Linked DNA regions of Homo sapiens. The protein of the gene in region 1 purifies or fractionates together with the protein of each later gene. This does not show direct contact. Each region holds a gene or a part of one and is shown on either strand. Other genes may lie near its edges.

Region 1 (5,502 bases):
GCTAACTGGTGAGCCCTGCCTCCCCCAGGAGCCCGCTGCGAGGCCAACACCTTCGATGGTGAGCGCTGCCTCTATGGGGCACTGAGTGACCCCATCCGCCGGGCTCTACGCGATTACAAGCAGGTCACGGCTTCCTGCAGGAGGCGGGATTACTATGACGACTTCTTGCAGCGGTGAGCCAGGGCACACGAGGGGTGCAGCATGGGGTGCGGTGGCCCTGGTGGGTGTGGCGAGTCTGCTCTGACTGTGGCCTGCACTGGGTTCTGAGTGCTCCGAGGAATGGGGTGGGGCTGTGCCAAGTATCCTCCCTCCTGGCTTGTCCCTCCCCAGGCTTCTAGAGCAGGGCATCCACAGTGACGTGGTCTTTGTAGTACACGGGAAGCCATTCCGGGTGCATCGCTGCGTCCTGGGTGCACGTAGTGCCTACTTTGCCAACATGCTGGACACCAAATGGAAGGGCAAGAGTGTCGTGGTTCTCAGGCACCCACTGGTATGTCCCTTCAGGGTGGCAGAGGGGCATGAACTGTCCAGGAACAGCAGGAGGTTGTGCTGGGTGGCTGCCTCTGACATTACTTTCTGGTTTTCTGCCCACAGATCAACCCCGTGGCCTTTGGGGCCCTGCTGCAGTACCTGTACACAGGTGACCCCCTGGGTCCAGGGTAGGAGGAGAGGGAGTGGGCCGTCCTTCTGGACAGCAGTACACCTAGGTGTGGCTGGGCTGACCTTTCACCTCTAGACACTTCATGGTCCCCCCGGGGTGGTTCCAGCTGCCTCTCGGGTTGGGTTGCAAGAGAGAGGACTAGTGTGCCTGCTCAGGAAGAGCTTGTCCCACCCACATGCTGAGGCCCTCCCATCTGTTCCCTGGGGCCTGTAGAACAGCTTTTGATGGGGAAACCATGGTGGCAAGTGGGCCCAGGAGTCCTAGTCCTGCAGCCAGGTGGCCAGGTGGGAGGGGATCACCCTTTTTCTGTGGGCCTGATGACAGCTGAGGTCCCGCAGGCCCTCATCCTCCCCACTGCCCCCAGGCCGCCTGGACATTGGCGTAGAGCATGTGAGTGACTGTGAGCGCCTGGCCAAGCAATGCCAGCTGTGGGACCTGCTCAGCGACCTGGAGGCCAAGTGCGAGAAGGTGTCTGAGTTTGGTGCGAGCAGGGTTTGGGGCCCGGGGCCATGGGTGCGGCCTGGCAGGGCTGGCCTGGCTCCCTGAAGTTGTTCTTCCCCTGTAGTGGCGTCTAAGCCAGGCACGTGTGTGAAGGTGCTGACCATCGAGCCCCCACCTGCAGACCCCCGCCTCCGGGAGGACATGGCGCTGCTGGCCGATTGTGCCCTGCCCCCCGAGCTCCGAGTAAGTGCGGGGCTGGTGGGCAGGAAGGGCGTTTTGGGATGGCAGGCCGTGACAGGCAGCCCAGATACTTGGGCTCAATTCCTTGTGTGGTCCTGGACCAGTTACTTCCCTTTTCTGAACCTAGTCGTTCACTTCTGTGAACAACTGCTCTGATGGGGTCACCTCTTCTGTACCCCAGGGTGATCTTTGGGAGCTGCCCTTCCCTTGTCCTGACGGCTTCAACAGCTGCCCTGACATCTGCTTCCGAGTGGCTGGCTGCAGCTTCCTCTGCCACAAGGTGCCTGTGCCCTCCTGTTGCCCCTGGCCCCAGCCCGTTGCCCTGAGCCCCCGTCTAGCTCCTCAGGAGACAGACCCTGGCCCTCACACTTCCTGAGCCCGGCCTCCCCCAGGCCTTTTTCTGTGGCCGCAGTGACTACTTCCGAGCCCTGCTGGATGACCACTTCCGAGAGAGCGAGGAGCCAGCGACCTCAGGGGGCCCCCCAGCCGTCACCCTGCATGGCATCTCACCCGACGTCTTCACTCACGTGCTCTACTACATGTACAGCGACCACACTGAGGTGGGGGCTCAGGCAGAGCTGGGGATGGCACACAACCTGTGCTGCCGTGGGCTGAGAGGGAGCGCCAGGGCCCTGGGGGTCTGTGGAAGGGCCCAGCTGGCCCCATGGTTGACGTTTTGAGAAGGCTGGAGGGGAAGGCTGTGGGACTTTGGATTTTTCTTTCAGGTAGAGGAAGCCTTGTTGGGCTCCAGAGAGAGGATGAGTGATGAGCCTGTGTCACAGACACTCCACACTTGTCAGCCACTTGGGATCCTCAGCTTCTCTAGCAGGAGGGTGGAGGGTGGGTGGGGACAGCCTCCTCTCTGTGGTGCTGCAGATCCCTGGGGTTCTGGGTTCCCAGTCTCCTCTTCCCTTGCTGCCTGCCTCTGTCTCCAGCTGCCCCAAGGTGTCCGTAAGCCAAGGCTGCAGGGCAGCAGCAGAGTGCTGAAGGTTTGCTCTGCCAGGGTGTGTGAGAGAGAGAGAGAGTGTGTGTGTGCGTGCGCGTGCGCGCGCACTATAAAGCAATCCCCATATCTGGTGGCTTAAAGAAGAGGGGAGTTTGTTTCTCCTTCACTTCTGACTGAGGTGGGTGCCCCAGGGCAAGTGGCTTGCGGAAGATCAGGTCATCCCTCCATCTTGCCCCTGTATGCCTAAGGGTGAAGGTCAAAAACCTTTTCTCTGAAGGTGAGTGTTTCAGGTTCTGTGGGCCATATGGCCCTGTTGTAGCTACTCAACTCTGTAGCGCAAAGGTAGCCAGAGACAGTACAGAGATGAGTGGGTGAGGCTGCATTCCAATAAAACTTTACTTGCACAAACAGGCTGGATTTGGTCCACAGGCCGTAGCTTACCCATCCTGCCTGGGGCATCGCGTTTGGCCATGGAGATTGGGTCCTAGGCAAACTCATGCTCTAGGAGGAAGAGGAAGGCAGGGCAAGCAATGCTGTTTTTGTAGAAGCCACCGGAAATTGCACCACTTCTCATGTTCCCCTGGAGAGAACTTCGTGCCTACCTGCCAACAAGGGAGGCTTGGAAAGTCATTCTGTGGCCAGGGCCCTGTTTTGTGGGGGAAGGGGAGGAAGCATGCTGGGAGACAGAGGGCAGTCCCTACTGCTGCTCTATCTCCAGTGGCAGCTCCCTTGTCCATCCCTCCGCGCGGCCTGACAGCCCCTCAGCCTCCATCTTTCCCACCCCCTCTACTGGGCATCTCCTGCAGCTCAGCCCAGCTCTCTGGCCCCTGTAGCAGGGGTTACCTTTGCCCACCCTGGAGAAGCTCCCTCTTCAAGGAGCCTCGCCACCCAAAGGGCACCTTGTCTCAGAGTGTGGCTTGGGCTCTTAACCTGGGTTGATACTGGTTGAGCTGTGTGACACTGGGTGAGCTTTGTGATCTTGGGCCAGTTACTTAACTGCTCTGTGCCTCTAGAACATGGGGATAGCTCTCGTCGTCACTTCCTAAGGCCTTGTGCAGATGCATGGGTTACCCAGGTAAAGGAGGTGGCATGGCACATGGCACATGGCTTGTAATGTGGTCGCAGAGCTCCCCTTGTCTCTGTCTGCAGCTTGCTCCCTGTGCCACCCAGGCTCTGGCCTGAATCTGAGGGCTTCAGTCTTATCCAGCACAGGATGTATCTGTAGGTGGGCTCTGTGTCCCCACAGCCTCTTGAGAGGGAGGGAGCTGGTAGATAGTCTCCCACCCCTGGCAGAGTCCCTGCATAGGTCTTGACTAGCTGCCTCTGTCCCACCATTCTGACAGCCCCCGCAGGTAGGCATGGTTATCTATACCTCATGGACTGGGAACTAGAGGCACAGGGAGGTGCAGTGACTTGCCCAGGGCCCCACAGCTAGAAGTGTCAGACCCAGGTCTGTATAACTCGGAGCTCAGACCCTGGCTCCTGCGAGGGCCCTGCCTCCCGCCTGCCCTGCCAGCCTGCTCAGGGCATGGGAGAACCCCCCAGTCTTCTGCCCCCTAGCGGTCCTGCAGATCCCTGTGGGAATCTGGGCCAGCCCCCCGACCCCCAACCCCATACATGCGCAGGGAGCTCCTACTCCCACTGGAAGCCTTCCCGCCAGTGCCCCCCAACCACCACAGGCCCTAGCCTTGGCTGTTGTGCCCTGGGAGCCCTTGGTGACCTCGGGGGGCACCTTCATCCCTGTCTTCACTGCAGCTGTCCCCCGAGGCAGCCTATGATGTGCTGAGCGTCGCCGACATGTACCTGCTGCCAGGCCTGAAGAGGCTGTGCGGCCGCAGCCTGGCTCAGATGCTAGACGAGGACACTGTGGTGGGTGTGTGGCGCGTGGCCAAGCTCTTCCGCCTGGCGCGGCTTGAGGACCAGTGCACTGAGTACATGGCCAAGGTCATTGAGAAGGTGGGCCAGTGGTCTGCAGTGGGTGGGAAGGAGGGGTGAGAGGGCAGGCACCCCTCCACTGAGCTGGCCCTTCCCGCTCATAGCTGGTGGAGCGGGAGGACTTCGTGGAGGCGGTGAAGGAGGAGGCAGCGGCTGTGGCAGCCCGGCAGGAGACGGACTCTATCCCGCTGGTGGACGACATCCGCTTCCACGTGGCCAGCACGGTGCAGACCTACAGCGCCATAGAGGAGGCGCAGCAGCGTCTGCGGGCACTCGAGGACCTGCTCGTGTCCATCGGTCTGGACTGTTGAGCCCCTGGCTGGGCAGCCCCAGGGGCCAGGAGCTCTCTTGGAGACAAGCATGTGTATGCGTTTGTGTGCAGCTCTTCTTCCTGCTCCCTGCACATTGAGGGCTTCATGGGGGGTGCGAGGGGCTCAGTGGGGCTTCTCTTCCCTCCATGAGCCTGGAGACCCCAGGGGAGGATCCATTTGGGATGAGCCCCCTCCCCCCAATGCACAAGCCAGCCCCCAAGACCCTGGGGGTGGACACCACTCAGGGAAACCTGGGGTGGGGGTGGGCTTTGGTCTTAGCACTTTCCTTCTCCAGATCCCCCCTACCCACCCCAGTCCCAAATCCAGTCCTCTGGCCCTTGCCTAGCCCTGAATTGCTTCTCTAAGCTGGTGTTCCCATGCACAGGGCCATTCAGGAAGGGCTGGGGGAGTGTGTGTGGCAATAAAGCTTGAAGGCACCGTGGGAGCATGAGCCTGTGTCCTGGGGTACAGCTTGGGAAGGGTGGGGCCTTCTGGAGCCAGTGGAGCTGGTGTGACCAAGGAAAGAAGCTCTAGAGTTGGGGGCTCCCAGCAGAGGCTGGCCCAGAGCCCAAGGGCCAGGGTACCTGGCTGAGCAGACCTAGAGATCTGCCACTGACCCCAGTGTGGCCTGGGCCCATCCTGGCTCCCTGCCTCCCTGTCTCCATGGATGCTGGTTGTGGTGGGCCTCATTCTAGGAGAGGGCCAGGACCAAAATGACCATTTTCTGTCAGCCCAGTGCCAGTCTTTTCCCCAGGGAGGACCTTGTGGCCCTTCCTGCAGGGGCTGCTACCTTATTATGGGAAGGTAAGCTGCAGGGGCCAAGGGAGACCTTTCTCCTTGGCCCTCTGAAGGTTCACTGAAAAATTAACTTGCAAAAGGCAGAGTAACAGGAGAAAAGACACGCAAATTTATTTAGCATGTAGACATGGGCGTCTTCAGAATGAAGACCCAAAGATGGGAAGCTGTCC
Region 2 (7,500 bases), on another chromosome or scaffold:
AAGGGTACTGCCTAAGGCTCTTCAAATACCCGGAAACATGGTACCTGAGTTCATAGAGGAGCAAACATTTCATGTGGCTCTGGGGAAAACATCGAAGGGCATCAGCTTTATTCTCGTCTGCCTTAACTCACTGGGTTGAGCTATTGTGAGTCTGAAGAGAATCATCAAAGGCAGCACAGCACAGCAGTTAAGGTCCCTATTGAGTCAGGCTGCCCAGGTTGGGAGCCTGGCTGTGCCTCTGGCTAGTCGTGATGGTGGACAGATTGCTTGACTTCTCTGAACCTCAGGATTCTCATCTGTACAAGATGCCGGCAGGATCTTCCTCAAAGGGGTTCCCCCAAGGGTGGCAGGAGATAACAGATGCAAAGCATTTAGAGCAGTGCCTGGCACAGACTCATGCTGAAAAAATGCTGGCTGTGTTATTATGAAGACCCTTGAATTAAACTGTATAAAAATTAAACTATAAGTCTGACCTGATGAGCAGCCGACCAAGTGGTATCCCAAGTCTGTGCGGAAAGGCCCTGAGGTAGGCTCCATCTACCCCAGAAACCTCAGAAATGAAACTCATCCTTCTGAAATAATCAGGCTCTTGGACAGGCACCAAGCCTATGCACCTTCAAGACCGCAAAGGAAAAGCTGTACACCCAGTGAGATCAGGAAAGAGAAATAGACCTTCTGAGTCAACTTAGGGAAGATGGTACAAAAATGATGGCCTCCTTGAAAAATCTGGGAAGATGGTCACTGAAAGCATTTACGATTGGATTTTTTTTTTTTTGAGACGGAGTCTCGCTCTGTCGCCCAGGCTGGAGTGCAGTGGCGCAATCTCGACTCACTGCAAGCTCCGCCTCCTGGGTTCACATCATTCTCCGGCCTCAGCCTCCGAGTAGTCAGGCGCCCGCCACCGCGCCCGGCTAATTTTTTTTTTATTTTTAGTAGAGACAGGGTTTCACCATGGTCTCGATCTCCTGACCTCGTGATCTGCCTGCCTCGGCCTCCCAAAGTGCTGGGATTACAGGTGTGAGCCACTGCGCCTGGCCTACGATTGGATTTTATTTCCTGTTCTCATCTTTGAGAGTGTGTGTGTGATGGGAGGAGGCGATAGTAAAGGCAGGTGGGCCATGCCCTGGGGCAGAAGAACACTGGCTGGAGATGCTGTGCGCAGGCTGAGGACTGGGCAATCTGCCTGCTGCCCTGACAGCCCGGAGAGGGCAATCCCAACCTATATGGCAAGCTCCAAAAAGAAGGCAATTCTTACAAGGCTCTGAAAACCTAAAATTCTAAAGCTATTTTTAAAAACAAGATACAAAACACTACTAATACGTCATTTACGTTCACAAATGAACAAAAACACATTTTTAGTTTGAAAACAAACAGGCCCTAACTTTCAGCACAGACACAGCACTTAATTGAGTGCCAGGCACTGTTCTACGTCCTTCCCATCTATTAATTCATTTACACTCCATGCTCCAAGGTAGGAGCCATTACGCATGGTTTGCTGTGGGGCGGGAGGCAGAGTTGGAACCCTGGCCCTTCCAGGGTGGTTCCAGAGTTGGGGCTGTTAACTATGATGCTGTTTTACAGGAATCTGGGTGACTTCTGAGGGCCGCTTGGCTCTGGGACGGGTGGAGATGGTGCTGGAATCCAGGCACACAGGTAGGGTGGTAGGCGGCGTGCCTGGAAGGTGACCACCTCCTGCCACTTGGCACAAGAGTGTAGCCCTGTCATCTGGGTGTCCCCATGCCGCCAGATTACTCGGGTTGTCATAACTACCTATCTATAACCCAATAAACCCTCAGGGGCAAAGGGCACCACCAGATGCTAAGGAAATCTTGGTACGATCTAAACTGAGGGTGGGGGCTGGAGGTGTCTTACAAGAACTTGCATCTAATTTTTGCCAGCCAAAAGAATTAAAAACTAGATACTGAGAATGTTTCCTTTGGAAAGGCTGCTCCAGACTGTTAGGAATCTGGGCTTTCTGATTCAGTCTCTTGCCTTTCCAGCACCTAAAATCTTGCTGGAGGGACAGTGAGAGAAGAACCCACTGGTCTCTCAAGGTCTACCCGCTGGTGACATGAGTGACTGGGGGAGCTGACACAGCTGTGTCCCTGGGGAACCTCCCGGGTTGGCAATAAAATGGGGCAGTAATGCTCTGACAATCAGCTTGCAGTGGACTGCCTGCGGAACTGGAGATGAAAGCCTTCGTAAAGCCCCAAGCCCTTTTACTGTGTGTACGCGTACCCCTGGCGTCCTCTGCCCCATTTCCCTAAATACCAACCTCAGGTGCCCTCCGCCCACCTCCCGGAAGCTGCCAGGTCTGGGCAGAAAACCAAAACAACCCTTGGGCCTTTGTCTCCCCCCTAAAGGCCAGCTGGGGCAAGAGGGAGCGAGGGCCCGCCCAGGCACCGGCTGGGGAAAGGCTGTTTGATGTAGGGCCACCTCCCGGGGTGAGGATGCAAGGGGACCTCGGCAGGAACCAAGTGAGGAAACTGAGGCTGGGTGGTCTGGGCAGCGCCCCGCTCGGGCTCGGGTCCCCGCGGGGTCTGTGCTCCAGCCACGGGTCTGGCAGACCCTCACGCAGGAGTCCCAGGGGTCCCAGTGGCCGTCCCTCGGAGCCGGGCACCCGTTGTCCTTCGGATCCTAGGACGTGCCACCCCTCGAACCTCAGGACCCGCCGTCCCTCAGACCCCGGGCACTGACACCCCTCAGACCCCGAGCACCCCCGCCCCTCGGACCCAAGGACGTGCCGTCCCTCAGACCCCGCGCACTGACACCCCTCAGACCTCGGGCACTGCCGCCCCTCAGACCACGGACACAGCTGCCCCTCAGAACCCATGCACCCGGGCCCCTCAGACATAAGGACTCGCTGCCCTTCGAGCCGAGCACCCAGCGCCCAGTCAGGCCCCCAGCCGCCCTCAGCCTGGCCCGGCCGCGCCGCTCACCCTGCTGCCCGGAGGAATCTGCCATGGCTGGGAATCCCGGACCCGCAGCTGCGGCTACAGACACTTCCTAGAATCTGATGCAACCGCCGCCCCGGAAGTCGCGCCCCACGCCGGGCCCGTCTTCCGGGACACGCCCGGTCGCTAGGCAACTACCAGGGGCTCCGGATGTCGCCGGCCCGGAGCATGCTGGGAGCTGTAGTTCAACCCAATGGCGACCCGCGCTCCGGAGCATCGCGCGGCCAAGCGTTCAGTGGCCGTGCTGGGAGTAGTCAGCCCAGCCGCGGGGAGACAAGCACTAAAGACTGAGCGTCCTGTAATAGGTGTTTAAGTCATGATTGCGCTAAGCGCCGTGGGGACCAGGCCCAGCCTGGAGGTCAGAGGCGGCCTCGGGACAGGGTGTGCTGGCGAGACGGGATGGTTCCCAGGAGGCCGACCTGGAGCAGGGCCTGGGGATGGGCGGGAAGAGCGCTCCAGGCCTAGGGACCGCCCTGCCAATGACCCTGCGGAAAGCAAGCCACTATGAAGTGTTGCGTGAACAGGCTTCTCCATCTCCTTCTCAGACCCCATTCTGGAGCCATCCCCAACCCCCTTAGGGCTCCTGCCTTCTGTGTGCATGATGTCACCTCCCAAGGATATCCCACCCAAGGTTCGTGCACCCATCCAAAATGAGAGGAAATGCTATTTAAGAAACAGAATTTTAATATGTCAAGAAAAATTATTAGCCAGGATTAGTGGCTCATGCCTGTAATCCCAGCACCTTGAAAGGACAAGGCAGGAGGATCATTTGAGTCCAGGAGTTTGAAGCTGCAGTGAGCTACGACTGTGCCACTGCATTCCAGCCTAGGCGACAGAGTGAGACCCTTTCTCAAAAAATAAAAAGTAAAAAATCTTCTAGTTACTTTTTGGAACCTCATGTCTAATTTCATAATAAATTCTAAGGCCGGGCACGGTGGCTCACACCTGTAATCCCAGCACTTTGGGAGGCCGAGGTGGGCGGATTATGAGGGCAAGAGATCGAGACCATCCTGGCCAACATGGTGAAACCCTGTCTCTGCTAAAAATGCAAAAATTAGCTGGACATGGTGGCGCTTGCCTGTAGTCCCAGCTACTCAGGAGGCTGAGGCAGGAGAATCGCTTGAACCAGGGAGGTGGAGGTTGCAATGAGCCGAGATTGCGCCATTGCACTCCAGCCTGGCAACAGAGTGAGACTCCGTCTCAAATAAATAAATAAATAAATAAATAAATAAAATAATAAATAAATAAATTCTAAATTCTACTGGTGGCTGGAAAAAAAAAAGAAGAAAGAGTTTGTTTACATTTCTGCAAAGATCCTGTAGCATGTGCTGTAACTTGCCCAGGATGTGGGAGGCTCTGTGAGACCCCAACTAATCCCAAAGGAGGGACCAAGTCCAGGACTTAGGGGACGAAGTTCTGGCCAGGTCCTACCATGACTCTCACAGTGCCTGTTTCTCACTCATCACTCTAGGACCATGAGTCACCCAAGCCCAGCTCGGCCACATGCCTTCCTGGGAGAAGGAACCGGAGGCGCCCAGGAGAGTCAGAAGCCTCTTAGAGATAAACATTCGGCTAAGGCTTGCCCTGCCCTTCCTTTCTTGCACTAAGAAAGCCTCCTGACATCAGGTCAGGCAAGCCAGAGTTTGGCTGTAAGACCTGGGGTGAGTTTAACTTCTCTGAGCTTCCAGATGTCTTGTTTTTAAATCTGCAAAGTGGGGCCGGGCACTGTGGCTCACGCCTGTAATCCCAGCACTTTGGGAGACCAAGGCGGCCAGGTCATTTGAGGTCAGGAGTGCAAAACCAGCCTGGCCAACATAGTGAAACTTCATCTCTACTGGGAAAAAAAAAAAGGGTCTGCAGAGCGGAACTGGGAAATGATCACCTGCTCAGGTGGCCGAGCTGTGTCTAAGAGTGCTGCAGTGTCTAGCAGCAGTGGGTCCCGCCTCCCCAGTCCTGCTGCGTCCCAGCCCTACCACCAGGGCAAGGACACTCTCTGAACCTCAGCATCCCCCTGGTGTTGTAGTTCTTTGGGACAGCACATTGGGTTACAGGTTGTTATGGGTTGCATTGTGTCTCTCCCAAAAGATGTGGAAATCCTATAACCACCAGGACCTGTGAATGTGACCTTATTTGGAAATAGGGTCTTTGCAGATGATAAAGTCATAAGATGAGGTCATTAGGGGGGACGTTAATCCAGTATAACTGATATCCTTGTAAAAAGGGAAAATTTCAGCTGGGCATGGTGGCTCACACCTGTAATCCCAGCTCTCTGGGAGGCTGAAGAGGGAGGATGGCTTGAGCCCCAGAGTTTCAGGTTGCAGTGAGCTATGATTGTGCCACTGCATGCCAGCCTGGGTGCAGAGTGAGACCCTGTCTCTAAAATAAATAAATGAATAAATAAATACACATATATAAATTAATTTAAAAAAATTTTTTGAGACGGAGTTTCACTCTTGTTGCCCAGGCTAGAATGCAATGGTGCCATCTTGGCTCACCGCAACCTCAGTGTCCCAGGTTCAAGAGATTCTCCTGCCTCAGCCTCCCGAATAGGTGGGATTACAGGCATGTGCCACCATGCCCGGCTAATTTTGTATTTTTAGTAGAGACGGGTTTCTCCATGTTGGCCAGGCTGGTCTCGAATTCCCGACCTCAGATGATCCGCCCGCCTCGGCCTCCCAAAGTGCTGGGATTACAGGCGTGAGCCACCATGCCCAGCCAATTAATTAAAATGTTTAAGTGGAGGAAATTTGGACACTGACAAGCAGGGAGGGTGCCATGTTAAGATAAAGGCAGAAACTGGGGCGATGCTTCACAAGCCAAAGGGCACCAAACATTGTCAGCAAATCACCAGAAGTCAGGGGACAGCCTGGGACAGATTCTCCCTCACAGCCCCAGAAGGAGCCCACCCTGCTGATGCCCTGACCTGAGACTTCCAGCCTCCAGAACTGTGAGACAATAAATCCTTGTTGAAGCCCCCAAGCCTGGCAGCCCCAGCAAACTGATAATGAGGATTTCACAAGAGCACGTAGGGTAAGGACATCACACAGAACCCTGCCTACTAAATATTCCGCAAGTGCAGACCCATCCTGGAAGCTTCACTGGCCTGTTCTGGATGGCTGAGGGGCTGATGCCTTGGTCTGGCCCTGGGCCATGGGCAGCAGGTGAGTGAACAGCACCTTCCCCGGGCAGCTGGACTTTCCTCGGCCACCAGTGGCCACCGTGCAGGGCTCTCCCTTGAGTCTCCTAAGGGCCAAGGCCAAGTTCTCCAAGAACGCTGCTCTTTCCATGCCAGAGGATGGACAGTCCCCCTCAGTGTCCATGGGCAGCAGGGTGTCGCTGGGCCCACTGCTTTGAGGTGACTAAAGCAGAGTGATTTCTTTGCTGGCACAGCCAGCAGCTCAGGCCCTACCCAAACCACTTTTAGGGAAAGAAATGTCACATGGCCTGCAAGCCAGGGTAGCGCAGCGTTAGAGACGAATACACTCAGGTGAGCTCCCAGCTCTGCTGCCAACTCCCGGGGGGGTCCCAAGACAAGCCTGTTGTGGGTTGAGCTGTGGTCCCCCCAAAATGATTATGCCCATGTTCTAACCCCTGGTACCTGCGACTGTGACTTGATTTTTATTCATTTATTATTTTATTTTTTTTTAAAGCAGGGTCTCGCTCTGTCACCCTGGCTGGAGTGCAGTGGTGCAATCACAGCTCACTGCTGCCTCAACCTCGTGGGCTCAAGTGATCCTCCCACCTCAGCCTCCTGAGTAGCTGGGACCACAGATGTGCACCACCATACGTGGCTAATTTTTTATATTTTTTGTAGAGATGGGGTTTCATTATGTTGCCCAGGCTGGTCTTGAACTCCAGGGCTCAAGTGATCCTCCCGCCCTGGCCTCCCAAAGTGAGAGGATTACAGGCGTGAGCCACTGGACCTGGCTGGCTTTATTTGAAAAAGGCGTCCTTGCAGATATAATCAAGTTAAAATGAGGTCATCCTGGATTAGAATGGGTCCTAATCCAATGCCTAGTGTCTTTATGAGAGAGAGATTCAGAGATACAGAGATAGGTGTGAAGGGGGAAGCAATTGGAGTGATGTAGCACAAGCCAAGGATGGCCGGTGGCCACCAGAAGCCAGGAGAGAGGCAAGGAAGGACCTCCTGGAGAGCCTCTGAAGGAACCCACCCTGCGGACGCCTTGGTTTGGAACTTCTGGCCTCTGGAGCTGTGAAAGAATCAATCCCTATTGTTTCTGTTTTTGTTTTTAATGTTTAACTGTTGTGGGTATATGGTAGGCATGTAAATTCCTATTTGTTTTTAAAAATTATTATTATTATTTTTGAGACAGAGTCTCGCTCCCTCACCCAGGCTGGAGTGCAGTGGTGCAATCTCAGCTCACTGCGACCTCTGCCTCCTGGGTATAAGTGATCCTCCTGCCTCAGCCTCCCGAGTAGCTGGGACTACAGACGTGCACCACCACACCCAGCCACGTAATAATTTTTATATTTGTAGTAGAGACGGGGTTTCACCATGTTGGCCAGGCTGGTCTCGAACTCCTCA

Evidence for each region.
Region 2: the proteins of ABTB1 (region 1) and CARS1 purify together in Homo sapiens (affinity purification with mass spectrometry; 2 studies listed by BioGRID and IntAct, with this or other methods). This does not show direct contact.

Annotation. Positions count from the first base shown.
Region 1 is NC_000003.12:127,675,942-127,681,443, forward strand, and holds the end of ABTB1 (ankyrin repeat and BTB/POZ domain-containing protein 1), read left to right. Parts: intron 1-28; coding exon 29-173; intron 174-330; coding exon 331-490; intron 491-594; coding exon 595-640; intron 641-1,025; coding exon 1,026-1,142; intron 1,143-1,226; coding exon 1,227-1,345; intron 1,346-1,523; coding exon 1,524-1,622; intron 1,623-1,734; coding exon 1,735-1,902; intron 1,903-4,043; coding exon 4,044-4,244; intron 4,245-4,327; coding exon 4,328-4,534; 3' UTR 4,535-4,985; downstream 4,986-5,502. UniProt on the Homo sapiens protein: May act as a mediator of the PTEN growth-suppressive signaling pathway. May play a role in developmental processes.
Region 2 is NC_000011.10:3,054,404-3,061,903, forward strand, and holds the start of CARS1 (cysteine--tRNA ligase, cytoplasmic), read right to left. Parts: upstream 3,021-7,500; 5' UTR 2,965-3,020; coding exon 2,940-2,964; intron 637-2,939; exon of another isoform or gene 538-636; coding exon of another isoform or gene 474-537; intron 1-473. UniProt on the Homo sapiens protein: Catalyzes the ATP-dependent ligation of cysteine to tRNA(Cys).